Linked DNA regions of Homo sapiens: all the other regions are reported to be linked to region 3. The links are microRNA targets in miRTarBase. Many come from high-throughput screens and were not tested one by one. Region 3 holds a microRNA gene; each other region holds the end of a gene's coding sequence.

Evidence for each region. Region 3 holds the annotated microRNA hsa-miR-1908-5p (CGGCGGGGACGGCGAUUGGUC, at 3,477-3,497, opposite strand). A microRNA usually pairs through its seed, bases 2 to 8, with sites in the 3' UTR of a target mRNA and lowers its output. Matches are read on the target gene's strand: a 7mer-m8 pairs with bases 2 to 8, a 7mer-A1 pairs with bases 2 to 7 and ends in A, and an 8mer does both.
Region 1: miRTarBase lists INO80E as a target of hsa-miR-1908-5p. Seed matches in the 3' UTR shown: 7mer-m8 at 7,906-7,912.
Region 2: miRTarBase lists NKIRAS2 as a target of hsa-miR-1908-5p. Seed matches in the 3' UTR shown: 8mer at 1,133-1,140 and 7mer-A1 at 2,272-2,278.

What each region holds. Positions count from the first base shown.
Region 1 is chr16:30,004,628-30,013,382 of GRCh38, reverse strand. It overlaps INO80E (INO80 complex subunit E), which reads right to left. Exons shown (of 7, transcript NM_173618.3): 7 at 7,592-8,162. The coding sequence ends at 7,941. It overlaps DOC2A (double C2 domain alpha), which reads left to right and starts at 2,356. Exons shown (of 11, transcript NM_003586.3): 1 at 2,356-2,480; 2 at 3,148-3,422; 3 at 3,826-3,905; 4 at 4,107-4,181; 5 at 4,278-4,387; 6 at 6,084-6,210; 7 at 6,293-6,352; 8 at 6,435-6,598; 9 at 6,706-6,787; 10 at 6,874-6,970; 11 at 7,052-7,869. The coding sequence starts at 3,161. The coding sequence ends at 7,197. RefSeq lists a silencer at 2,390-2,449.
Region 2 is chr17:42,022,876-42,031,692 of GRCh38, forward strand. NKIRAS2 (NFKB inhibitor interacting Ras like 2) reads left to right here. Exons shown (of 4, transcript NM_017595.6): 4 at 779-2,766. The coding sequence ends at 1,018. It overlaps ZNF385C (zinc finger protein 385C), which reads right to left. Exons shown (of 9, transcript NM_001392013.1): 5 at 8,744-8,817; 6 at 5,908-6,198; 7 at 5,175-5,371; 8 at 4,743-4,853; 9 at 2,701-4,258. The coding sequence ends at 4,022. Among named protein-coding and RNA genes, the nearest start is that of NKIRAS2, 7.2 kb to the left of the region's middle. RefSeq lists enhancers at 2,062-2,111, 5,882-6,670.
Region 3 is chr11:61,811,733-61,821,282 of GRCh38, forward strand. MIR1908 (microRNA 1908) reads right to left here and starts at 3,508; the gene lies at 3,429-3,508. It overlaps FADS1 (fatty acid desaturase 1), which reads right to left and starts at 5,271. Exons shown (of 12, transcript NM_013402.7): 1 at 4,823-5,271; 2 at 1,511-1,621; 3 at 739-936. The coding sequence starts at 5,197. LOC124902680 (a long non-coding RNA gene) reads left to right here and starts at 6,288. Exons shown (of 2, transcript XR_007062696.1): 1 at 6,288-9,550. It also overlaps a transcript of FADS2 not described here. RefSeq lists silencers at 3,353-3,472, 4,993-5,192, 5,533-5,632 and an enhancer at 3,575-4,472.

The sequences.
Region 1 (8,755 bases), not on the chromosome of region 3:
GAGGCAGGAGAATGGCATGAACCTGGGAGGTGGAGCTTGCAGTGAGCCGAGATCACGCCACTGCACTCCAGCCTGGGCGACAGAGCGAGACTCCATCTCAAAAAAAAAAAAAAGAAAAGAAAAAAAAAGAAGAGAGATCCTCCCACCTCAGCCTCTTGAGTAGCTGGGACCACAGGCACACACCACTATGCCTGGATTTTTTTTTTTTTTTTTTTTTTTTTTTTGTAGAGACAGGGCCTCACCATGTTGCCCAGGCTGGTCTTGAACTTCTGAGCTCAAGGGATCAGTCCGTCTCAGCTTCCCCCCAGCCCAGACACTTTGGCTTTGCCCATTTTATGGGTAATAAGTGATATCTCAGGGTTTTTTGTTTGTTTGTTTGTTTGTTTGTTTTGAGACTGAGTTTTGCTCTTACAGCCCAGGCTGGAGTGCAGTGGCACGATCTCAGCTCACTGCAACCTCCGCCTCCCGGGTTCAAGCGATCCTCCTGCCTCAGCCTCCCAAGACACATACCACCACGCCCGGCATTTTTAGCAGAGATGGGGTTTCACCATGTTGGCCAGGCTAGTCTCAAACTCCTGACCTCAGGTGATCCACCCACCTCGGCCTCCCAAAGCGCTGGGATTACAGGCGTGAGCCACTGCGCCCCGCCCCCTCAGTGTTGTTGACTTTACATTTCTCTTACTTTTTTTTTTTTTTTTTTTTAAGAGACTGTGTCTCACTGTGTTGCCCAGGCTGGCTTCACTCAAGCGATCCTCTCGCCGCAGTCCCTGGAGTAGCTAGGATTACAGGCACCCGCCACCACTCTCGGCCCCATTTCTCTTATTTAAAAAAAAAAAAATTGCCGTGAAATACGCATATCGAAATGTACCATCTTCACCATTTTTAAGGGTAAGATTAGGTGGTGTTAGGTATGTTCAGTTGTCGTGCAACCAGATTGCTGTTTTAAATAACAGCACTTAGAGATGCCGACTTCGTGCCAGGCCCAGTTTGGGACATTAGGGACTCCCAGATGAATCAGCCGCTCCAGTGGAACTCCCTGCTGGTGGGGGAGGCACTGGCGAAGCGGTGCTGAGCCGAGTCCTGACGGCGCTGGAGCTGAGGGGCAGTGCGGGATGCCCCAGGAAGGCTCCTAGGAAGAGGGGACCCACGGTGACTTCCTAAGGAAGCGCGGTTCCCAGGTAGAGGAGCGCATGTGAGCCAAGATCCCTAGGCCTGAGCCGTCTAGGTGTGTCCCAGGAACTGCAGGAAACGGTTGGGTGAGTCAGTGGTGGGCAGCGAGGGTGATAAGCCCCTTCGTGTCTTCGGGATGGTAAGTTTGGGGCACAGGTGAGTGAAGACCGAAGGCCAGGGGTGGACTGACACTCCGTGGCAGGCGCAGGGCCGGGCAGGGGGGCGGCTTGGGGGTGGCAAGGTTTGGGTGAGAAATGGCAGCCCATGGGGAACTACCGCAGGGCTCTGAGACCTTCAGAGCCAAGCCCCGACGCCCCTTCCCACCTGCGGGGCAGAACTGGGGATGGCAGGGGGGAGGGTGGTTCCCAAAGGAGATACCATCCCTGGTAAGGGGACATGGGCCCCTGGGAGTTGGGTTGGGCCACAAGGAGAGAGGCCTGAACGGCCAAAGGGAGGGGGCGTGGGGGAAGCCGCAGCATCAGACCTCTGCCTCCTCCCTCAGATCGTGAGGCTCCCCAGCCTGGCTCGGGAGACCCCGAGATCCCCGGCCGGTGACAGCAGGCGACCCCCTGCTCCTGTCAACCTGTGGGTCCCTACGGACGTGGGGAAGGGAGGAGGGAGGCCCCAGCTCCCTGCGGGGGAGGGGCGTGAAGACGCGCGGGGGTGGGGGGAGATGAGCCGGCGTCGCCATGACAACGAGGCCGGTGGTCCGGCCTTGGGGACCCGGGAGGGAGGGAGGCGCCGTGGCCGCGCGCGCGGGCGGGGGCGGGGGGCCAGGTCTCCCAGGAGTAGTTGGGGAACACCCGGCGATTCTGGCGGCTGCTTCCTGGTGGCGCAGGGAGCCCGCGTGTTTGCGAGTGCGTGTGTGTGCGAAGTTCTCCGGGTAAGTGTGCCAGCGCGCGCCTGGGTGTGTGCAAGGGTGTGAGCGTGCACACGTGGGCACGGGCGTGTGCGCGCGGGGGTGCCCGGTTGGATGTGTGCACACGAGTGTGTGCCGGTCCGCGTGCCCCTGCGTGAGTGTGCGCGCGCGAGCACACGTGTGTGTGCGCGCTCGCGTGCGCTCCCGAGCGGGCCCCGGGTGGGAGTCCGAGATCCCGCCCCCTCCCCAGCCCCAGCGCCCCTCCCCGTCCCCCGCCGCCGCGCCGGCTGCATCCTCGCCTCCACCTCGCTCACCCCCTCCTCCCCGCACTTTCTCGGCGCTCCCTCCCTCTCGGCTCGCACAGCTCGACTCCGCGCTCTCCTCGCCGGCCGCCGCCGCCCAGCCTGCGCCCGCCGTCCCCCCAGTGCCTGGGCACCTGTTGGAGGCAGAGGCAGGTGCAGGGGGCTGGGCAGGCCGGGGGCGTGAGGGTGCGGGGAAGCGTGCCAGCCTGTGTGCGCTACGGGGGTGTTCGGCTCTCCTGCGGCTGCAATTTCTGGCTCCCCTGAGGAGCCAGAGGTGGCATCTGAGGCTGGGGTCTCCACCGTGGGCTGTGGTGAGCGAGCGGGGGAACCAGGCAGGCAGACAGGTCCTGGGGCTGAATGAGGGGACAGTGGGCAGTTGGAGCCTAGAGGGGTGGGTGACACCCTGACTAGACCAGCGCCTGGTGCAGAGGAGGACAGAGCCTCCGAGAAACAGAGGCGGGGCCCTGCAGGGCCCCTTGGGGGACAGGCAGGCTCAGGAGCAGAGGGGAGCCCCGGAGGAGAGGAAGGAGCTGGCAAGATGATACAGGGACAACCTAGAAGTGGGTGGGTGAGGACGGGGTGGTGCAACCTCGACTTCTGCAAGGAGTGGGTTGGCAGCCCAGCCCCTGTGGAGTCAGCTTGGGGTCTGCAGGGCCCAGGCCTCCCACCTGCCACCGGCTGGCACACACCACCCTCTCCCTCGACACCTAGGAAGGGAGGCCAGTGAGGGCCCCACAGACCGAGGAGGCCGTCGCCTGGCCCTCAGCCAGGATGGCTAGGTATGATGGGCTCACTGGCTCACACGCCCTCTCCTAGCCAGGGGTGCTGCATGAGGGGCCGCAGGGGCGATCGCATGACCATCAACATCCAGGAGCACATGGCCATCAACGTGTGCCCCGGGCCCATCCGGCCCATCCGCCAGATCTCTGACTACTTCCCCCGGGGACCAGGACCTGAAGGGGGCGGCGGGGGCGGCGGGGAGGCCCCCGCCCATCTGGTCCCCCTGGCTCTGGCCCCCCCTGCAGCCCTCCTTGGGGCCACCACGCCTGAGGATGGTGCGGAGGTGGACAGCTATGACTCGGATGATGCCAGTGAGTCTGGGGGCTTGGAGGCCCCATGTGCTGGTGGGGGTCTCCAGGCTTGCCGTGGTGGGGGGAGAGGGGGATGGGCCCTGCTGGCTGTGCATGTAGGTAGGGGAGGAGGGCAGTGGGGGGGTGGCAGGGACGGCCACCACAGCTGCAGTCAGCGTGGAGATTACAGCTTCAGCAAGGCTCAATATTCAGTATTTCTGCTGAGACACTCCACCACCCACACAGCCCCAGTTGCGGCCGAGCCAGGGACCCAGACGCACACACGCATGGGCCCACTCAGCCTCTTGCACTCACACTCGCGGGCTGGCAAGAGAGAGAGACACACAGAGCCAGTGCCCACCTGCTGGCCTCTCGCACACACCTGTCTCCATACCGACCCATGCTGCCTTTCCTCTCTCTCCAGCCGCCCTAGGCACGCTGGAGTTTGACCTTCTCTACGACCGGGCCTCCTGCACTCTGCACTGTAGCATCCTCAGGGCCAAGGTGGGCACTCCCTGCCACCCAAGCCCGGGCCCGGTTTGCGTGCAGCCCCCAGAGGGGGCCCATTCCTCCTTCCCTTCCCAGGCCTGCTCCTTCGTCCTGCCCTTGCCCCCTCCTTCTGGGCTCCTCCAGGGTCCAGCTCTACAAGAGGGATGGAGAGAGGTGCCGGGAGCCTCTAGCCCTCTCCCCTGCCCTCCTCTCCAGGGCCTCAAGCCCATGGATTTCAATGGCCTCGCCGACCCCTACGTCAAGCTGCACTTGCTGCCTGGAGCCTGTAAGGTAACAGCCTCCTCTCGCCCCGCCCGGCCCAGCCCATGACTCCAGCCTGTGGGGCTGGAGGACAGGTATTGAGAACCTTTCATCCCCACATCCCAGGCCAATAAGCTAAAAACGAAGACTCAGAGGAACACACTGAATCCCGTGTGGAATGAGGACCTGACTTACAGCGGGATCACAGATGACGACATCACGCACAAGGTGCTCAGGTGAGGGCCCCCCTCCCCACCACCCAGCAGCAGCTCGGGGACAGCTGACATTGTAACCGCTGGTTGGTTGATCTATGTCCCATTAAGCCCGTACCTCTCTGATGCTCAAGAACCATCAGCGGCTCCCTAGCCCCTTTGGCAGCAGGCCAAAATTCTTCCCTGCCATTCCTGCCCCTCAATATCTCCTGCCTGCCAGGTGTGGTGGCTCACACCTGTAATCCCAGCACTTTGGGAGGCCGAGGTGGGCGGATCACTTGAGGTCAGGAGTTCAAGACCAGCCTGGCCAACTTGGTGAAACCCCCGTCTCTACTAAAAATACAAAAATTAGCCGGGCGTGGTGGCATGTACCTGTAAATCCCAGCTACTCGAGAGGCTGAGGCAGGAGGATCACTTGAACCCGGGAGGCAGAGGTTGCAGTGAGCCGAGATCGCACCACTGCACTCCAGCCTGGGTGATGGAGACTCCATCTCAAAAACAAAACAAAAGTATCTTCTGCCCCTCAAACAGAGGACTCCCTTCTTCCAACTGGCCAGTTCCACAACTCCTGAACTTTTCCTGTTGTTTTCTATCTGGAAAGCTCCTTCCTGCCAGCCTAAATTCCGCTCATCTGAGGTTCAGTCCAAGCTCTGCCCCCTCCCAAAAACGTTCCTGGGTTGCCGAGACCCCTTCTCAGAGCCCTTGGCTTAAGCCAGACCTCTGCAGCTTTGGTCTGCCCCTTCCGTGCCTTGAGTTCCCCTAAAATCTCTTAAGGAGTGAAGTCTTCAGGGACAGGGAACTTGCTCCGTCATCCTAGGAGATGGAGATGTAGGGAGAGTACTCCCTCAAGTCAGGTGGCGGGCAGCGAAACCCAGGCTCTGGAGAGACCTCTGCCTTTGTGCTTGGATTTGCAGCTGGGACCTTCCCTGATGGTCAGGGCTGTGCAGCAGAGAGGCCACCTTGGTTTCAGCTATTCGGGTGGAATGGAGGGGAGGCCAGAGGCCAAAACCAGAATGAGACCAAAAAATGAGCGCTCACCAGGGCCCAGCCCAGGCTTAGCATTTTCACATTTCTTTCTTTCCCTTGACTATCTCCATTTACAGATGGGAATTGAGGCATAGGGTGATCAAGTGACTTGCCCAAGGTCACACAGGTGGCTCAGAAGTGGCAGGGCTGGGATCTGCCCATCCTCCATGCCACAGATGCCCAGCCTGGTAGTGGGTCACTGCGGAGGCAGGGCAGGGACTGCAGGAGGACAGGTGGCTGGAAAGCAATCATTTCTTAGTGAGTCCCTGCGGGGCTGGCTCTCTGCTGCATGCAGGAAAAGGACGGGGGTTCCCGAGGAGGCGTGGGGTACTGGTCTGGCTGCCCAAGGCTCCAAGGCCCTTCTAGCTCTCACGGCCTGTGTCTATGGCCACATCCACCGTGGTGTTCGGCTCCTGCCCCCAGGCCCTGAATGGAGGCAGTGAGCAGCGTGCTCCAAGATTTCTGAGGGCTTCCCACAATGGCTGAGCATGTCCTGATGGACCAGGGACAGCCGGGTGGCTGCAGAGGGAGGGACAGAGGAATGGGCAAATCTGCTTGTCCTTCTCAAGTGCCAGCCTGTCTTCCAGATGAGACGTAGTGTTTAGGGCAGAGCTGGGCTGGTCCAAGGCCCTTCCTACACCCCGGAACGGGGCTCAGGTACCCCAGGGGCCCTGACACTGCAGTTCCCGACCAGGATCGCCGTCTGTGATGAGGACAAGCTGAGTCACAATGAGTTTATTGGGGAGATCCGCGTGCCCCTCCGCCGCCTCAAGCCTTCGCAGAAGAAGCATTTTAACATCTGCCTCGAGCGCCAGGTCCCGGTCTGTGTGGGGGCTGCAGGGGCGCCAGGGGAGGGGGCCCTGGGGAGGCCAGGCTTCCAGAACCTTCTCTTTGCCCCCTCAGCTGGCGTCCCCCTCTTCCATGTCAGCGGCGCTGAGGGGCATCTCCTGTTATCTGAAGGAGGTGAGGCACCTCATGGGGATGGGGATGCATGTGGGTGGGAGGCTGCAGGGGCCCAGGCTGACCCTGAGTCTGTGCCCCGCAGTTGGAGCAGGCGGAGCAGGGGCAGGGGCTGCTGGAGGAGCGTGGCCGCATCCTGCTGAGTCTCAGCTACAGCTCGCGGCGCCGGGGACTGCTGGTAGGCATCTTGCGCTGCGCCCATCTGGCTGCCATGGACGTCAACGGTTACTCGGACCCCTACGTCAAGACGTGAGCCCTTGCTCTGACCCTCTCCTCCCCAGGGAGCCTGCCCTGGCCTGAGTTGGGCCTGGCCTGTCCCTCACCCCTCAGTTCGTCTCCCTCCACCCCACCCCCAGGTACCTGAGGCCCGATGTGGACAAGAAATCCAAGCATAAGACGTGTGTGAAGAAGAAGACTCTCAACCCAGAATTTAACGAGGTACCCAGGAGGGGACGGGACATGGAGGGAGGCCAGGGAGGGGCTGGGGAGCTGGCTCACGAACGGGTGGCCGGCCTTGTCCCTAGGAGTTTTTCTACGAGATAGAGCTCTCCACTCTGGCCACCAAGACCCTGGAAGTCACCGTCTGGGACTATGACATTGGCAAATCCAATGACTTCATTGGTGAGGGAGGAGCTGGCTGCGGGTGTTGAGGGCGGGCAAGTGGCAGGGAGGTGGCCCTGACCCTGCCCACCTGCTCCCCAGGTGGCGTGTCCCTGGGGCCAGGTGCCCGAGGCGAGGCTCGGAAGCACTGGAGTGACTGCCTGCAGCAGCCGGACGCAGCCCTGGAGCGCTGGCACACCCTGACCAGTGAGCTGCCCCCTGCGGCCGGGGCTCTGTCCTCAGCCTGAGTGGACAGCAGTGTCCCGGCACAGGCCCATCGAGCCGGGTCCAGTACCCAACCTTCGCACGAGTGTGTTGCACGTTTACACAGGGTGGGCTGCCCCCACCCTGCACTACCTATTTTTGTGAGTCTCCGTGACCCGGGTCTGTCTGCTCATGAGGGGCTGCGGAGTTCTATATTCACATATGCAAACCTCCTGCCTGACTCGCTAGTCCCTGCAAATATGCAAACCCCCCATCATCTGCACACCCGGGCAGTGCTCAGAGCCCGGCCCCAGGCCCCCGCGCTCCTCACTCCTGCCTCTCCACGCTGCCCCGTCCCTCTCCCCCAACAGGGAGGAGGTCGGATTAGGGGAGGTTCAGAGGAGGAGAATGTCTCAAAAAAAAAGGACAAAAAACAAACCCAGAGCCACTCCTTTAATACAGAAACTTCATTGAAAAAACCTAGCCCTGTACAGCTGCCCTTTTAAAGAGGTGGCCATTGCAGGGTCTCTGCCTCCCCAGCAGGTGGCAGATGCTCCCGGCCACTCGTTTAAATAACTGTCCCCTGGAGGGGGCCGGGGTTTGAAGGCAGGGCCCCTGCCACCCTCCTGGGGGACACCCGTGCATGTTTACGCCTTTTCTGGTTGTGTCAGTGGCCGGAGCATGGCAGCTGGGCATCAATAAACACCTCCGAGGAAGCTGGACTCGTGTGTGCTGGCACGGGGAGGGCGCCGGGCGGGGCCGTGGTGGGCATGGCGTGATGTCACGGTCACTCCGGGATGTCGATCACCAGGTCATCGTCTCCATCCAAGGCATCGTCCCCGCTACCTGCATCGCTGAACATCTGCCGAGGGACCGTGCTCAGGATCGTGGGGGGGGGCATCTTAGGGGGTGGGAGGGGGGTCAGGGTTGTCCCGACCCCAGCCCCAGAACCCCGGCCAGGGAAGGTCAGCGGCCCTCCCACAGGGCAGTCGGGGGGTCCCACCGCCATCTGCAGCAGGGGGAAGAAACACAGGGGGACTAGTCAGGGAGGCACTGGGGCCTCAGGAGACTAGGCTTTGCCCCCCAGGGCAGCTCTGGGGAGGGGGAAGAGGCCCTGGGCACAGCTGGGCCAACCCATGCTGCACTCAGGGCCTGCCCCCCTCAGCCCCTCGAGAGCCTCAAACCAGCAAGTGCCTGGGGGTGGTGATAGAGGTGAGATGAGGGGATGGGGGTGTCTCACAGGAAACCGGGAGGGAAAGGCCCGGGCACCTGCCCTCTCCAGGGAGGCGCCTGGGCTGCCCTGAGACAGGGGTTAAGCCAGAGGCGGAGTCGGCCTGGAGTGCTTGCCTGCCTGCCGGCCCCGGAGGTGCCACCTGCCACCAGCTTCCTCTCCCTACTCCTCCTCTCCCTCTTCTGCGGCACTCACTGGTTCGGTGGAGGGTATTGCAGGCTGCCTGAGCCAGGAGCCCCAGCGGCTTATCTGCCCCCAAGAAGCTTGTATTATGTCTTGGATGGGCCCCTCCTCGGGGTCCCGGCAGCTGTGGCCTAGGCCCAGCCCTCCTCTTAGCTCACCTGGGCTGCGGTCCCAGCCTCCTAACTGGA
Region 2 (8,817 bases), not on the chromosome of region 3:
CATTTAGTTGTTGAAGGGGTCACTGACCTAATGTATGAAGCCCCCACTTAGTTGTATGAAGTCCCCACATAGTTGTCCTTCCTGATGGTTCTGTGCTTTTAGCTATGAAAGCCCTTCTTTTGTTTGTTTGTTTGTTTGTTTGTTTGAGACAGGGTCTCACTCTGCCACCCAGGCTGGAGTGCAGTGGCATGATCACAGCTCACTGCAGCCTCAACCTCCCAAGGCTTAGGTGGTCCTCCTGCCTCAGCCCCCTGCTAAGACTACAGGTGCATGCCACCACACCTGGCTAAGTTTTGTATTTTTAGTAGAGATGGGGTTTTGTCATGTTGCTCAGGCTGGTCTCAAACTCCTGGACTCAAGCAGTCCACCTGCCTCAGCCTCCCAAAGTGTTGGGATTACAGGCGTAAGCCACTGCATCTGGCCACGAAGGCCCTTCTGTTCTCCAGAATCCCACAGTAAGCTGCAGGGTTCTGGGAGTGCTTCCTCACCTGTTGTTGAGCCAGAAACTGACTGCTAATAATGAGCATGTATGGGCAATACAGAGCTGGTGATAGAACTCCTAAAAGGAGGGCTAGATGGAGGCCAGAATTTGAACAGAGGAAAGAGAAAAAAAGCAACCATCTCCTTCCCCACAATGAGTGGTATGGAATCTAGAAAGAGATGAGATATCAGCCATTGAGCTTTCCTCTCATAGAACTCCTAGGTGGTTGCCAGCCCCCATGTCCATTCCTGGTTCTATGGTACATTCACAGGCCTATGCTCTGTCCCTCTTCCCCAGGTCACCATCGTGGTCCTTGGCAACAAGTGTGACTTACAGGAGCAGCGGCGTGTAGACCCAGATGTGGCTCAGCACTGGGCCAAGTCAGAGAAGGTGAAGCTGTGGGAGGTGTCAGTGGCGGACCGGCGCTCCCTCCTGGAGCCCTTTGTCTACTTGGCCAGCAAGATGACGCAACCCCAGAGCAAGTCTGCCTTCCCCCTCAGCCGGAAGAACAAGGGCAGCGGCTCCTTGGATGGCTGAAGAGCTGCCGTTCCTCTTTCACGATCCCAGCCCCATTTCAGTGTCTGGGGCTCTGGTAGATGTGTTGAGGGCAAAGTAGAGGACAAGCTGTCTTTCCCAGTCAGCCAGGGAGCTCCCCGCCAGGCCACGCCCCAGCCACTTTGCTCCCTCTCACCTCTGGGAAGTGCAAATACTCTTGGTTGACATCCCCTTCCTCAGCCCTCCCAGCCTACTCCCCATCCCAGCTTTTAGAGGATCTGCTCCACTGTCTCCTGGGGCAGTTGTGGGTCACTGTCCCTTCCAGCTGCCCCAGACAGGAAGCAGAGTCACCACGCAGCAGTGTCCCTTCTTGGGTCTGAGTTCCTATTATAGGTAGGGGCCCCACCCTCTGGGCTTCCCATCAGCGACACACACACACTTATGGCACCAGCCTGGACTCCAGAAAAAGGGTGTCCAGGTATTGTGTGTATGCATTTAGTTGTGCACACACAAATATGCTCCTATACTGGCATTAGGCGTCTCCTCATCCCTCACCCTGACCTTTCTCCTGTCCTTTTCTTGGCTGGAAGAAGTTGGCCTCCTGGGAGTGTAGTTTTCTGTTTTAAATCCCCCACCCCTGGCTGGGCTCAGTGGCTCACCCCTGTAATCCCAGCACTTTGGGAGGCCAAGGCGGGTCGATTACTTGAGGTCAGGAGTTCACGACCAGCCTGGCCAACATTGTGAAACCCCATCTCTGCCAAAAATACAAAAGTTAGCCGGGCGTAGTGGCACATGCCTGTAATCCCAGCTACCCGGGGAGGCTGAGGCAGGAGAATTGCTTGAACTCAGAAGGCGGAGGCTGCAGTGAGCCGAGATCGTGCCACTGCACTCCAGCCTGGTCAACAGAGCAAGACTCCATCTCGAAGAAAAAAAAAAAAAATTCCCCACCCCTACCAATTGTTTTACTTCCTCTTCCTGCTCAGGGAGCAGATGGGCCTCACTGGTTGAGATGGAATAGAATAACTGGGCTATGAGTCACCAGCCCACTTTGTGACCCAGCAAGACCTTTCCCCTCTCTGGGCATCAGTTTCTCATCTGTAAGATGACCAGAGTTGCTTAGATGATCTCCTAGATCCTTTCCAGTTCTCTTGATTTCGTAAAGCCAATGGCTTCTCCCTCTTTAAGGTGCTATGCCAACCAGCCCTGGAGGCTGGGATCTGCCGCTCCCTCCAGCCACCAGGGGGCAGGAGTGCACTACCTGCTGTCAGTCACCAGAGTGGCCGCTCAGTGCCCAGCCCGCCAGCCTCGCTCTTGGAGGCTGCTCTTTATCCTGCCTGTGGTTTTCAGCTCAGAGCTGGACTTCTATTTATAAGTTACCTGTATTTATATTTATATGCCCGCTCTCATGGTGAAGGCTGGACAAGGTGCTCCTCTGGCCCCTCCTTCTTACCTCAGATGCCTGAACAGAACAAGGCAAACCCGTAGCAGCCTCTCAGGAGCTGACAGGTCCTCTTTCGGGGCTCAGGAGGGTGGGCACACACCCAGCGGCCTGCAGAGTAAGCTTATTACCCACAACTGTGCCCGCTTTGTGCTTCTAAGGTGCACACCTAGCCTAGGTGAGACACTGCAGCCAGGCAACCACCGACACACGCCCCTTCTCAAAGCCAGAGGTGAGTGGGGCAGGTGCCCGGGGCTGGGTGAGTGGAATTAGGACACACACAGGCTTGGGCTTCAAGTTCATTTATTGATGCATTGGTTGGACACAATAAAACCACAATTGTTATCAAAAAGTTTCCCTCCCCTCCCCCTTTTTCTGGTTCTCCCATTGGAAATGTCTTTAAAAAACAAAAAAAAGATACAGGGGGATACTGGCAGGGTCCCATATTGTGGGGTGGGGAGGGGGCAGTGCTGCAGTGGAAAGGAGTTTGTGACATTGACATTGACAGCATGAAAATGGGTCTTGCCAGTGCATGTGAGACTGCCTCCCAACACTCAGCTTCACAGTGGCAGGGGCTGGTTGGGAGAAGGGAAAGCTGAATTTAGTGCTAGGACCAGTTTGGAGTGGGAAGCTGTAGGGGAAAGCTCTTCCTTTGGGAGCTCTGCGGGGGGTTCGGTGTTAGCTGAGTCCATAGTCTGAGGGAGACCCACACCCGCCCTCCAAGAGTTGGGGTTCAGGAAGTCAGAGAAAGGCTAAGAAGAAGAGCTTCTGAGGGATGAGTTACTCCCTCAATATTAAGACTGGGCTTATCAGCAAGTATCACTTGAACCAGGGAGGCAGAGGCTGCATGCAGTGAGCCAAGATTGCACCACTGCACTCTAACCTGGGCAACAGAATGATACTCTCAGACAGAAAAAAAGACTGGGCCCATGAATGCCCAGAAGACTTAAGATTAAAACAAAACCCTGGGCCCAACCAGAACATCACCTCCTCTCTTAGTCCCACCCCTTCAGAGCAGATGAAGCCCCCAAAAGCTTTCAGAACCAGCCCCACTACCTCCTTGGCTCTGCCCCACCTTAGCACTGCTGATCGAAGGACTTTTGGGTCCCCCTTTCTCCTCCATGGTCCTCTGTCACACTCCCATGGTCACCTTGTCCTGACAGCCTTGAGCCTGCTGCAGCTAGAGACCCCATCCCTATCTCCAGTGAAGCCCCAAAGCCTAGGAATAGAGGTCAGAGAGTCGTCCCCTGGCTAGGAGAGGATGGCTTGTAGAAGCTAAGATTCCTAGAGTCTGGCCATGTGGGTCTTGGGTGGAGGAAAGTGAGAGCACCACATGGCTGGGGCTGAGATTTTGCATAGATCTTTGGGGTCTGTCAGGGTGGGAAATGCAGGCAAGCCTAGGATTAACCCTGGAAGGCCTGCGAAAGGAGGGTGGGGACAGTCCTTGGAAGGCAGCTGCCCTTAAAACTAGCCCAGCTCTTTCTGGATCGGGCAGGACCCCTGAAGCTGTTCACAGTCCCTGTGGCATGTAGGAAACCAAGGTGTCTCAGGACAGGAGGAGACAAGGAGTGGCTATTGGGAAATCAGCTCTGGCCTCCCCATGAGGGCTAATAAGGGGCAAGGACGATAGGTCCTGTGGCAGGGCGGACAGCTCCTGCTGGGGTGCGAAACAGAGCTGGGCCCAGGATGGGAGCCGGGAAGAGGGTAGTGGCTGCTGTAGGGGCAGGGCGGAGGGCCAGGGGCCCTGGCAGAGCACAGATGGCAGTGGCTGCGGTGGGGAGCGGGCTGGGCAGGAAGCGGGCTGCCAACGTCTTGGTGAGTTGCTTCTGCAAGGCCAGTTTAGACTACACGGAAAAGAAAGGAATGGACACAGTCTCCACCCCAGAAAACCCCACCCCCTCCCTGGGGCCCATCCTCAAGCTTTTTGCTGCAGGGAAAGCGTGCCTTTTAGAGTTCCAAACCTAAATCCTCCTCCCTTCCCACCCCCAAACATTCATTCCGAAGGGCTTTCTCCACCACCTGTCTTCCTGTCCAGAGGGAGGAAAGTCTCAGCATGGGAGAAGGGAGGAGGATTTACGGGATAGAGATGGTCTCTAGGAGATGCACGCCCACCCCTCACTCTTGCCCCTAAGATGACTATCCCAACCCACCTCCCCGGAAATTCCTCTGCGCAGATCCCAGTTCCCAGGCCTAGCTCTGTCACTGCCCAGCAGCCTCATTGCAGGGTGGCCTCTTTTCCTGCCCCACCGCAGCCCCCCCATCTGGCCCTCCCAGCCCACCCTCTCCCCTCCTGACCCAGTCCCAGCTCTGTTGCCTGGAGACAGATACCTTGAGGATACTCACAGCCAGCGCTGCGTGCTTCTGCAGCTTGCTGTGCTGGCTGGAGGGCTTGGGGGTCTTCCCGGCCAGGCGGTCTTTGTGCCTCCTGCTGCTCATGTGCTAATGGACAGACAGACAGACTGGGAACAAGATGACAAAGCCCAAGGACCCCAAGACCATCATCCTCGACTCTTCCCCTTCCTCTATCCACAGCTCATACATCCAAAGCACACAGACTGGGTCCTCACCCTGGGGTAGGCCCTGGGAAGGGGAGGTGAGTCTTGGCCTTTGCCCTTAATTGGCCCACTGGCCTGCTGGCCTCGCTTCTCCAGCCTGCTCTGCTGTGCCCTGCCTGCTCTCTTCAGGGTCCCTCCCTCTGCTGCCCTGCCCCCCAACCCCCTCCCCTGGCTCCAACCCCAGTCACAGCCTCACTTCTCCCACCTGCTTCAGTTGGGTCTCTGAATTGACCTGGAGCTGACAGAGAGCACAGTGGAAGGCAGGGCTGGGCCCCTGCCGGCCGCCCCGGCCCCCTGTGACTCTCTTGGCTTTGTGTCCGGCACCTCCCCTGGACACCGGGCGGCCCCGGCTCCTCCGGGGAGCCCCTCGCTGACCTTCCATCATCCACCGGTGCTTGGCTCCTGGAGAGGGAAGAAGGCAGTCTCTCAGCAGCAGGAAGGGGTTGCAGGGGCCACAGAGACCCCCTCCACACTCATGCAATTTGGCTCTCCCTGTAAGCCTCACGGCTGCTCTGTGCACACATCGCCCTCCAGCCACACGTGGTTTCCCCTCCCAGCTTCTGTCCTTTCATGCCAGCCCCTCCTATGAAAGGCCTTTCTGCACTACAAATAGCTGCCTTCCCCTTTGCTTTGATCTCAGTCCTTTCCTTCTGGGTGTAATCTAAGGAGAGAGGCAGATGTCTCCTGTCTCCTGTGGAGTGACCCTTCAGAGATTTAGCGACCTTCAGTTCTTGCTGCCTCAGACTTCTCTTCCCAATTCTCCTTCCCCAAGGAGTAATGGGAGGACCCAGAAACGTCCGTTCAGTAACACACAAGCACAAAGCCTCCGCCATCCAACCCTTGAGCGAAGCACCCAGGAACTCAAGCCTGCCCTCATCTGGCGAGGCTTAGCTTCTGTCCCACCCTTTCCCTGGGCTCCAGCTCCTGGGACTACTGACCTGTGTTGTGAGCCTGAAGCTGGGAGGCCGAGTTCACTGTCACCTTACACGTGGGGCAGTAGAGGTGCCCCTTCTCACTCCTGCCTTCCCCACTCATGCTGCTTCCCACGGCAGCTGCCGCTGGCTCAGGCCCCGGTGCCTCTCTCCCAGGCTCTGGGGAGCAAGGTGGGCAGGAGGAAGAAGAGGATGAGGAGGCAGCATCCAAGAGCTCTGAGTGGGCTGGCTCCCTGCATGTAGGGTCTGGAGTTGGTGGTGGCTGGAGTGGAGGCCCAAGAGGAGGGGCTGCAGGAACTGCTGCAGAGATGGAAGAGTGTGAGACCCAAGATGACGCTGCAGACCACGATCTTCAGCTCTGACCATGGAGGTGGCCTGGAGGGCCCCTGGTGGATGACCAGCACTGAATTCCAGGCCCCACTTTTCTACCAACTCACTGGGCAGACTTGGGCCTCAGTTTCCCCATCTGAAATCATTAAGTTGGACACAGTGGTCTCAGAAAGCCCTCACAGCCCTCATATCCTTATTTGCTAACTTAAACAGAGATCACCAAAAAAGATGTACTAGAATGTTCAGAGAACACTATTCATAATATCATAAAACTGAAACTACCCACATGTCCACCAACAGGAGAGCAGATTTTTAAAAAACAATGGTGCGGGCTGGATACGGTGGCTCATGTCTGTAATCCGAGCACTTTGGGAGGCCGAGGCAGGTGGATCACCTAAGGTCAGGAGTTCGAGACTGGCCTGGCCAACATGGTGAAACCCTATCTCTACTAAAAATACAGAATTAGGCGTGGTGGCACATGCCTATAATCCCAGCTACTCGGGAGGCTGAGGCAGGAGAATCGCTTGAACCTGCAAGGTGGAGGTTACAGTGAACTGAGATCACACCACTGCACTCCAGCCTGGGCGACAGAGTGAAACGCCATCTCAAAAACAAACAAACAAACAAAAAAAACACAGTGGTATGGGCCAGACGCAGTGGCTCACGCCTGTGATCCCAACACTTTGGGAGGCCAAGGTTAGCAGATCACTTGAGTCCAGGACTTCGAGACCAGACTGGGTGACACAGCGAAACACCATCTGTACTAAAAATACAAAAATTAGCCAGGCATGGTGGCACATGCCTATAGTTCCAACTACTTGGGAGGCTGAGGCAGGAGAATCGCTTGAGAGCCAGGGAGGTGGATGAGCCTAGGTCACACCACTGCACTCCAGCCTGGGTGACAGAGCCAGACCCTGTCTCAAAAAAAAAAAGAGCTTTTAAGAATTTAAATTAAAAAAAAATAGTGGTATGATCCACGGTGGAGTACTACACAGCAATGAAAGAGAACAAACTACAGCTACACGCAAAAACATGGATGAATCTTACAGATATAATGAATGTTGATGAATGTTTGTGAGAGATGAATAAAAACTAGATACCGGCCAGGCAGGGTGGCTCACGCCTGTAATCCCAGCACTTTGGGAGGCCGAGGTGGGTGGATCACAAGGTCAGGAGTTCGAGACCAGCCTGGCCAATATGGTGAAACCCCGTTTCTACTAAAAATACAAAAATTAGCTGGACGTGGTGGCAGGTACCTGTAGTCCCAGCTACTTGGAAGGCTGAGGTAGGAGAATGGCTTGAACCCAGGAAGCAGAGGTTGCAGTGAGCCAAGATTGCACCGCTGTGCTCCAGCCTGGGAGACAGAGCGAGACTCTGTCTCAAAAAACAAACAAACAAAACAAAAAAAACCCACAAAACAAAACAGATACAAAAAAACCCCTGCACACTCTATGTTTCACCAAAAATAGGTAAAGCTGATCTATGCTGAGAAAAGTCAGGATCGTATTTACCATCAGAGGGGTTGTAGTTAGTTGAATAGTGTCTCCCCCAAAATTCACATCTATCTGGAACCTCAGAATGTGACCTTATTTGGAAACAGGGTCTTTGAAGATAAAATTAGTTAAGATGAGGTCATGCTGGGTTCGGGTGGGATTGATCTAGTGACTGGTACCCTTATAAAAAGAGCTTGTGGAAACACAGGGACACACAAGGGAGAATGTGGAGATGGAGGTGGAGATTGGAGTGATGCGTCTATAAGCCAAGGAGTGCCAAGGAATACTGGCAGCCACCAAAGGCCAGAAGAGAAGCATGGGACACTTTCTCCTCTAAGCCCCCAAGAAGGAACCAATGCTGTCAACGCCTTGATTTCAGACTTCTGGCCTCCAGAGCTGTGTGAAAATAAATTTTTGTTGTTTTCAGTCACCCAGGTTGTAGTCTCTTTTTTTGGGGGTGGGGGTGGGCAGGGGAGGTTAGAGACAAGGTTTTGCTCTGTCACCCATAGCTCACTGCAGCCTCGACCTCCTGGGCTTAAGCAGATCCTCCTGCTTCAGCCTCCTGAGTAGCTGGGACTACAGGTGTGCATCATCATGCCTGGCAAATAAATTTTTTGTAGAGACAGGGTCACACCATGTTTCCCAGACTGGTCTCAAACTCCAGGCTTAAAGCAATCCTCCCGCCTCAGCCTCCCAAAGTGTTAACCATCACAACATGTGAGCCACCATTCCTAACTTCACAAATGAAGTCATTTGTGAAGGCAGCCCTTGGAAATGAATACTTCAAGGTAATGACCAGGAGGAGGTGCAAGACAAGCTTCTGAGGTGCTGGTAACGTGTTTCCTGATCTGGGTGTGTTCAGCTTAGGAAAATTCATGGCGTGGTACACTTGTGTGCCTTTGCCTGTCTGTATGGAATACTCCAACACAAGCAAAAAGAATAAGCAGAAATCTCTCAACCCCTTGTCGGAAACCAGATTTGGAGTGGAGACGTGGGAAAGAGAAGAGCTCAGGACTGACCTTTACTCTGTGGCTCTCCAGGGGCTCCACTGGCCAGCGTTGGGATTGGGGACACTACAGCCCCATCCTGGGCC
Region 3 (9,550 bases):
GCACCCACCACCACTCCCAGCTAACTGTTGTATTTTAATAGAGACGGGGTTTCACCATGTTGGCCAGGTGGTCTTGAACTCCTCACCTCAAATGATCTGCCCATCTTGGCCTCCCAAGGTACTGGTATTACAGGCGTGAGCCACTGTGCCTGGCCTTTTTGTATTTTTAGTAGAGGTTTCACCACGTTGGCCAGGCTGGTCTTGAACTGAGATCAAGTGATCCGGCCACCTTGGCCTCCCAAAGTGCTAGGATTACAGACATGAGTCACCACACCTGGCCTGAAGCTCATGACTTATGATGGACTGACATCTAGAATACAGAAAGGACTGAAACATGAGCAGAAGGCTTGCCAAATGGGTCCTGACAGTCAAGAATTAGCGCTCAATCATTATTAACATATTGGGCAATGTCAGTGGTGGGGAGGGAGCCAAGCTTTGCTAAGAAACCAGAAACTTGGCTCCTGGCACAGGTGGGCTGTGGCAGAGAACAAACCGCATAGGAAGAAGAGAACCCTTGGAGAAGCAGCTAAAAAGGCAGTGAGAGAAATGAAGATGTCCATGTGGCTAAAGAGCAGACAGGTCAAGACAGCAGAATGCATGTTCCTGCACTCACTCCTGCATACCTTCAGATCTGCCCTGCTTGGAGGGCAGGCACTCTTGGCCTTCCTCAAACACCCAAGGAGCTTTCCCCAGGGATGCTGAGCATTGCTGTGCACTTGACAAGCCAAAGGCTCTCACCTGAACTGCACTGAGCAGCACCGCACAGAGGAGGAAGGGCAAAAAGGACGTCCCAAAGACCCAAAGGGTGAGCCAGGCTGCACCATCCAGCAGCAAGATGTGCAGCAGGTACAGCAGGAAGAAGACATGGTTGGCCTTCATGAGCCCCATCCGCTCCACTGTGGCCCGCAGCTCCCGGAACTCATCTGTCAGCTCTTTCTGCAGAAGAGGAAGAGGAGCTGTTATTCTTCTCATCTGCACCCCAATGCTACTGGAGACAAGGGCCCTCTCAGGCTCAAGGACCTCCCACTGAGGTAGCTGTGGGAAGTCCACAGTCCTAGGCAAAGATACCACGACAATGAGGATGACAGGAGGAGGTGCCATGGGATAGTGCCTAAGAGTTCAGGGGACTAAGTCCTTGCTCTGCCATTTACTAACTGTGTGATCCTTGGCTGTGTTGCTTAACCTCCCTGAGCCTGTTATCTCATCTGTAAATGTGTAAGAGTTATGAGTTTATGCTTGGTGCATAGTAAGTGCTCATATGATAACAATGATGATAACAATGATGGCAGCCATGGTAGTGGCAGCCTTGGGGGAGCCATAGGTTGCAAAGCCATGCTCCCTTGGGCCTGTGACCTCATGACTATGCAAGAGAAGCAGGGACCTCAAGACTCCCCAGAGCTACTACTGACTGTGATTACTATGACTGTGATCCCATCTAGACTCTCCTTCCACCCCCTCTCTGTCCCCCTCAACAACCAATAGTTGCGACATAGCAAACACAGGGTCTTACATTCTTGGTGGGCTCAAAGCTGGGCTGCTCTGGAGACAGTTCTCCAATCAGGAGAGAGTTCATATACTTCTTCACAAGGCCCTTGTTGATGTGGAAGGCCACAAAGGGATCCTGCAAGTGCCGGGAGAAGATGAAAGGTGAGGGAGCCAGCCCCCTGGACTCCGGCAGTGTTCGCACCAAAGGCCATCCTCCTGCCCGCCAGAAGGCTGTACCCAAGTTGAAGTGAGAGGTGAAGCCAGATGGACTTCCTGGGTCGAGTGCAGACTTGGAGAACTTTTCTGTAGCTAGAGGTTTGTAAAATGCACCAATCCGTGCTCTTTAGCTAGCTAGAGGTAAAATGGACCAATCAGCACCCTGTAAAATGGACCAATCAGTGCTCTATAAAATGGACAAATCAGCAGGACATGGGCAGGGACAAATAAGGGAATAAAAGCTGCTCCCGGCCGGGCGCGGTGGCTCACGCCTGTAATCCCAGCACTTTGGGAGGCCAAGGCGGGTGGATCACGAGGTCAGGAGATCGAGACCATCCTGGCTAACACAGTGAAACCCCGTCTCTACTAAAAATACAAAAAATTAGCCGGGCGAGGTAGCGGGCGCCTGTAGTCCCAGCTACTCGGGAGGCTGAGGCAGGAGAATGGCGTGAACCCCGGGGGAGGGCGGAGCCTGCAGTGAGCCGAGATCGCGCCACTGCACTCCAGCCTGGGCGACAGGGAGACTCCGTCTCAAAAAAAAAAAAAAAAAAAAAGGCTGCTCCCCCTCACACCCCCCAACGTCCAGCAGCGGCAACCTGCTCGGGTACCCTTCCACGCTGTGGAAGCTTTGTTCTTTGCTCTTCACAATAAATCTTGCTGCTGCTCACTCTTTGGGTCCACGCCACCTGTAAGAGCTGTAACACTCACCGCGAAGGTTCATGGCTTCATTCTTGACGTCAGCGAGACCACGAGCCCACCTGAAGGAACCAACTCCTGACACAGAAGCACAGGCCATCTCCCTAGGCCCAGCTGCCTTTTGAGGGTGCTCCCAGGTGTCCACAGTTTAAGATCACCGAGTATCTGCTCTAGTTAGAAGGATGCATCAAGGAATGGGAAGCATTGGCTGAGGGGAACCACTAAGAAACACCTGCCTGGGCTGGCCTTTCCCCTGGGTGTGTCCACAGACAGCTTTTGCCCAAGAATTTCAGTATAGGTGAGAAACAGGAGAGATGGGTGGGGCTGTGTCGGGCGTTGGTTCCTTCCGGCGGGTATGGTCTCACTGACTTCAAGAATGGAGCCGTGGACCTTCCCGCTGTTATAGCTCTTAAAGGAATAACACTCTTTGCAGACCCAAAGAATGAGCAGCAGCAAGGTTTAGTGTGACGAGCAAAAGAACAATGCTTCCACAGCCTGTAAGGGAACTGGAGCGGGTTGCAGCAGCTGGCTGGGGTGGCCAGCTTTTATTGTCTTAGTTGTCCCTGCCCACGTCCTGCTGATTGGCTCATTTTACAAACCTCTAGCTAGCTACAGAGCGCCAATTGGTGCGTTTTTACAGAGCACTGATTGGTGCATTTTACAAACCTCTAGATACAGAAAAGTTCTCTAGGTCCCCATTCGACCCATCAACTCCAGCTGGCTTCACCTCTCAGGGCTATGAGACTTCCGTCCCTTCTTGCGGGTCTTTCAATAAGTCCCTTTCCTCTCTTAGCTAGGGTTCTCCAAAAACCACGAAGAGGAAGACTTCCCTACGTCCGAACTGGGGCACTTCTGCGTTTCTTCCCTTTCCCTCCACCGTTGTTCTGGGTAGGGCTCCACATTTCCCTAAGCACTCTGGCCACCCCCTGCCCCAAGGCAGCTACTTTGGGTTGTGCAAGGTAAGGTCCATGGCGATAAGATTCACGTTGGCAGGTCCGGCAGCCCCGGGCCCTGTAAGTGATGCGGCGTGTGGGGCGGGGGCCGGGGCGGAGCCGGCGGCCGGTGGCACCACACATACGGACCAATCGCCGTCCCCGCCGCGGCATTCCCGGCCCCAAATCACACTGCGGGAAGCTCCAGCGTTGGTGCCTGTTTCGTCTGCGCATGCGCCGGGACACGCCTGCGCCCTTGGCCGCAGTCAGGGCTCCCGAGTGGTCACTCTGGTTGACCCGCGCAAGCTCTGGCCTCGCCCACTAGGCTGGTCGCGTCAGAGGGTGGGGCGGGTCTTCGCCCCGCAGCGTCTAAGCTCTGCTGCGACGTTATGGGAACCTGGTGACCCGCGGCACACTCTGGGACGCCAGGGTAGTGGATAGGGACAGTGGAGGGCATCACGCTGCAGGGCACGGGATCAGAGGGGGATGCAAGGGGAGGGGACGCCATTCTGGCCGCCAAGGGGGAAACGCGGTGAAGGGAACGCCCCGACTTTCGAGTCCCTAGGACTGAGTCCCCAGGACTCCAACCCAGCAGAGAGGCGCCGGGGCCTTAGCTCTGAGGGCTGTGGTCTAGAAAGGGAAGCAGCAGGCCTGGGGCTGGGGCGCGCGCCGACCCCGCAGTGAGACCAAGGGAAGAAGGGACAGGACCCCGCGAAGGGCCTACCGCCCCAGAGCGTAAACAGCGGTCCGCTCCGCGGAATAGCTGAAGACCTCGCTGGCCTGCGGCTCAGTGGCCTCCCCGGCGATTCGAGAACAGCTCTGGGGGTCCTCGCTAAGTGTATGCCATTCCCAATCCCTTATGTACGCCAGCGGCCGCTTGCCCTCCCCGGCCAGCGCTGTCCCTTCCGCGTCCTCCAGTCTTCACACGACGCAGGGGTCCCCAAGGCAGCGGTCTCCCCAAGCTTCCCGTTTCAGCCCCATCCTCGAGAATGGGCTCCTTTCCTGCTCCCTCTCCGCTCCTGCTGGCGAGTGGAGACCGGCACCTAGGTCCAGACGCGGCTGCGCTGCCTCTCCTAGCCATCGAGACAGGATGTGACTCCCTCCCCTGGCCACTGACCCCCTCCCTCCCCAGGCGGCCTGCATCCTTGCTCTCCTCCCTCCTAGCCTACCCAGCTCGGGGTTCTGTCCCCGCCCAGAGACCTGAGGCTCGGGGCTGCAGATGGAATGCACGGCAGGGAGGCGGGACCCTTTGTTTGTGTGTGCGTGTTGTTGGCCTCCATCCCCACTCCCCAGACTCCACTTCTCCAGGCCTCTCTCCCGCCTTTTCATCCCGCATCCGCAGGACACCCAATCACCGGGCAACAGGTATGATCAGGCGCCTCCGGGCTTTCCTCCGAATTAGTCGGTGTTTGGCTCGGAGTGCGTAACTCTGTCTCCCCTGCACTCAGCCTCCGGTCCCGCCCTCTCCTGTGCCCCCGCCTGGCTGCGCTCACCGTGGCATCCTGCCCGGCGTAGTGGCTGATGACCCGGGAGCCCCCTGGATGCCGGCGGGTGAACTCGCTGATGTTGTACACCTTACGGTCGATCACTAGCCACCGCTCCTCGCACCCTGAGCGCTGGGCCACCTCGTCCCAGGTGAAGTAGCGCGGGGTAGGTCCCTGAGCCGCGGTCTCGGCGGCCACCGGGTCGGGGGCCATAGCTGGCCTGGCGACGCCGCGCGCCGGGCCAGCAGGGGCTGTCAGGCGCGTGCTCGGGGTCCGCGGGCTCCAGGAGTGGATTTGCTGGCGCGCGCCCAGAGCCAGCCGCCTGCGCGCCGGGTTTTCAGCACCGCAGGGCAGACCGGCGGGCCTCGCAGCGCGCGTTCCCATTGGCCGAGCCTCGTGGCGCGGGGAGCGAGATCCCGTCCCCCGGTGGGTCTTGGGCAACTCACAGCTGGGCTGCCAACACGCGCCCCCTCGCGGGCTCCCTAAAGGCGTCGCCGCCGGATTCGACTTCCTGACGTCAGGCGGGCATCGCGGCGTTGGCTCCCAGGGGGCGCCGCGGTAGGAACAGCGGTTCTAGTGCAGGCCCTGGGTGCGGGGCCGCGCTGCAGGAGTGAATGGACTGAGGGGCCAGGGCTGCGGGGTGGCCGCAGGAAGGGTGGGCGGGGCCGGGGTTGAGGTTTTTCCGTGCACGAGGCTGCCCGGGCGGTCGCGGACATCATCTTTAGGCTGTGGATGCCTTGGCCGGGGTCTCCAGACGCTGACCCTCCAGGGTTGGAAACTACTGCCTGCTTGCCACGTCGTGCCGCCAATTGTGCTGCCCGAAGTAGCAGCCTGAGAGCCCTTGAAAGTTGCAGTTATCTTGTGAACAGCATATTTACGGTCTCTTGGGCTTGGTGGTGGTTGGGGGAGGGCTGTTAATGCTTTAATTTGTTCAATGAAACATTTAAAATGCCCCACAATTTTTATAACCCTGTTTGCCTCTTTTTGTTTTTATTTTTATTGTATTTTGGAAAAATTCACTGGGATCCTTGAGTGATGATCCTAGCGTCTCCTGACCCTTAGGTGTTTCACCTGAAAAGCCTGGGTCTTCAAGCTGAGGCATTTCTGTTCTAGCCTGGAGGCGCCTAGGAGCCCTGGGAGACTTTTTAAGCAGAGAGATTTGGCATTTAGATCTCTGGGTTTTAGAGGAGTGGGAACGCACCTAAAAGTGGGGTTGCCAGTTACAAAGCTGTTGCAGTCCTGAAGAGACCCAGAGTTTAGGTCCAAAATTTTATTTATTCAACAAACACTTTATAAAGCACTTACTGTGTGCCAGGCACTGTTCTTAGCGTTTTGCAAACCTTAACTCATTTAATTCTCCTAACAACCCTATGAGGTTGGAACAATTAACCTAATTTACAGTGAAGAAACTGAGCCCGGGGGAGGTTATTTTGTCACACAGCTTGTAAGTGGAGGGCTGAGATTTGACCCTGGCCTGTGCTCTGAACTCTCAGGCTCTGCCATATTTCTCATTACACTGGTATTTGGGCACTTCAAAGGGAAAGGAAACATAACTGTCCCAAGCACTGAGCTAGATTCTGAGCACGTAGGAGTCAGGAGAGGGTGATACAGAATAGACTAGGTGAAATATGGCTAGATTTCTGGTAGAAAAGGATTAATTCATTCCATCCAAATTCTTCATTTTATAGATAAGAAAATTGAGGTTCGAAATGGGGAAGGGGCTTACCAAGTTCCCATAGGGAAGTTTAGATGTCCTGACTTCCAGGTAAGATGCCAGGCTATTGGACCCTGCTCAGGAATGATGGTCCACACAGCTGCACCTCTGTACAGCCAATATTCCTTTTTTAAAAACCTTGCCCAACAACTTGGCAGTGTCTAATGCGAGCTACAAAACATTTTCTATTCTTTGATCAAGCAGTTTCACTCTTGGTAAAGTAGGGGAGACTGTGCAAAGATGCAGAAATAGCCAATTTAATAGCAAAAACTGGAAATAAACCCGAGTCCTGACAATAAGAAAATCGCCAAGCTTATTGGGATCTGTTAACACAATGAAGAATTAAAGAATGATTTTAAATGGCTAGAATGTGAACTATATTGATAGATATAGAATCCTTCCCCGTGAAATAAGCAGAACCCAAAGTAGTATGGGTTCGCTGATTACAACTATATAAGAAATTCATGGGTATTAAATAACAGAAGAGAGGTCCTTTACATAAACCATTTTTCCTATGTGACTGTGCAGTGGGATAAAAGCTCTCATACTGCTGGTAGAAGTGTAAGTTGATTAAACTGGAAAAAATAGTTTGACAACTTATATAGAAATTTAAGATTTTTTTTTTTTTTGAGATGGAGTCTCGCTCTGTCGCCCAGGCTGGAGTGCAGTGGCCTGATCTCAGCTTGCTGCAAGCTCCACCTCCCAGGTTCATGGCATTCTCCTGCCTTAGCCTCCCAAGTAGCTGGGACTACAGGTGCCCGCCACCACGCCCAGCTAATTTTGTTTTTGTATTTTTAGTAGAGTTGGGGTTTCACCATGTTAGCCAGGATGGCTTTGATCTCCTGACCTCGTGATCTGCCCGCCTCGGCCTCCCAAAGTGCTGGGATTACAGGCGTGAGCCACCGCACCCGGCCAGAATTTAGGAATGTTTTGAATACTGAAGAGATGAAAAAAAATAGAAAAATAAAAATGTTCCCAATAATTCCATGTTTAGGAATATAGCCTAAGGAAATGTTCTTAGAAAAATATTTATAGGTCAGGCGGGGTGCCTCACGCCTATAATCCTAGCACTTTGGGAGGTCGAGGCAGGCGGATTGCCTGAGCTCAGGAGTTCAAGACCAGCCTGAACAAAAGAAATCGGCTGGGCGTGGCGGCGTGCGCCTGTAGTCCCAGCTACTCGGGAGGCTGAGGCAGGAGAATTGCTTGAATCCGGGAGGCAGAGGTTGCAGTGAGCCGAGATTGTGCCACTGCACTCCAGCCTGGGCAACAAAGCAAGATTCTATATCCACACACAAAAAAAGAAAACTATTTATAAACAAAAAATATTCATTAAAGCAGTATCTATGATAGCGGGAAATGGAAACACTCTAAATGCCCATCAGTGAAATATTTTGCAGACATTGAAAATAATGTCATCTTTCCTTTAATACAGAATCAAGGAAAAATGTTTTATGTAAATCTTTTATTTTATTATACTTTAAGTTTTAAGGTACATATGCACAACATGGAGGTTTGTTACATATGTATACATGTGCCATGTTGGTGTGCTGCACCCATTAACTCGTCATTTAGCATTAGGTATATCTCCTAATGCTATCCCTCCCCCCTCCCCCGAATCAAGGAAAATTAAATAATATGATGTAAGTTTGGCTACAGAGATAACTGTTCTATAAAAAGACTAGGTTGGGCGCGGTGGCTCACACCTGTAATCCCAGCACTTTGGGAGGCAGAGGCAGGTGGACCACCTGAGGCCAGGAGCTCGAGACCCACCTGGCCAACATGGTGAAACTCTGTCTCTACTAAAATACAAAAATTAGTGCCTGTAATCCCAGCTACTTGGGAGGCTGAGTCAGGAGAATCACCTGGGCAACATGGTGAGACTGCACCTCAGAAAAAACCAAAAAACCCATACCACTTGTAAGATAATTCCTTGATCAACCCCACCTACCTAGAACCATTCATTAAGTGTTTTATTTAACATTTGTGGGGTGTCTCCTCTTTGTATTCCCAGCACCTACTTTGGTAAGGTGCTGGGAATACAAAGTTCAGTACTATATGGGTCATGCCTAGTCATGTCTACTGGAGGAGAGAGACAAGTGAGTCACGGATTATAGGTCAGTAGGATAGATGCAAATTAAATTCATCTTACTCAGGATTTAAACAGCTTATATGACATGACTTTGCATTCATGTTTCTTTGCTTTTCATGTGTTCTTAGGTCAGTGTCATGTATTTTGCTACCTCCCTAACGAGCTTATAATCCAGGATAGGGCTGTGGATTCTGTTTATACTACCAATACATATTCAGAGCACCTTGGTTTGGAGTTCTAGGTGGAATCCCACATAAATTTGCTGAATTGGCCGGGCGTGGCAGCTCATGCCTGTAATCCCTGCACTTTGGGAGGGTGAGGAGGGCGGATCACCTGAGGTCAGGAGCTCCAGACCCACTTGGCCAACACGGTGAAACCCTGTCTCTACTAAAATACAAAAATTAGCCGGGTGTGGTGGGGGGTGCCTGTAATCCCAGCTACTTTGTGGGGGTGAGGCAGGAGAATCGCTTGAACCCAGGAGGCAAAGGTTGCAGTGAGCCGAGATTGCACCACTGCACTCCAGCCTGGGTGACAGAGCCAGACTCTGTCTCTAAATAAATAAATAAATAAAAAATTTGCTGAATCAACTGATGATTTCAACCTGAAAAAATACAGGTGAGTAAGCCTATAGGCCACTAGGCAAATGTCGTGTTGCCCTCTCATCTCCTTACCCACCTACACAGGTGGTCACACAGACTGCAATAAACCCATATCCAGGTCAACTAAAGGAAACCTTTGCCTTGCAGGCCCTGTTGATCCTAAGGGAACTTGCCTCATCCTGGATATGAATCACATACTTAATTTTAGGTTGCCACTTGTGAATACTAACTGTTCTGGCCAAATTAATCCTCAAGGAACAGAACGAAATGAGCTTAAGACCCTAATGCCAGGCCAGGCACAGTGACTCGTGCCTATAATCCCAGTGCTTTGGGAG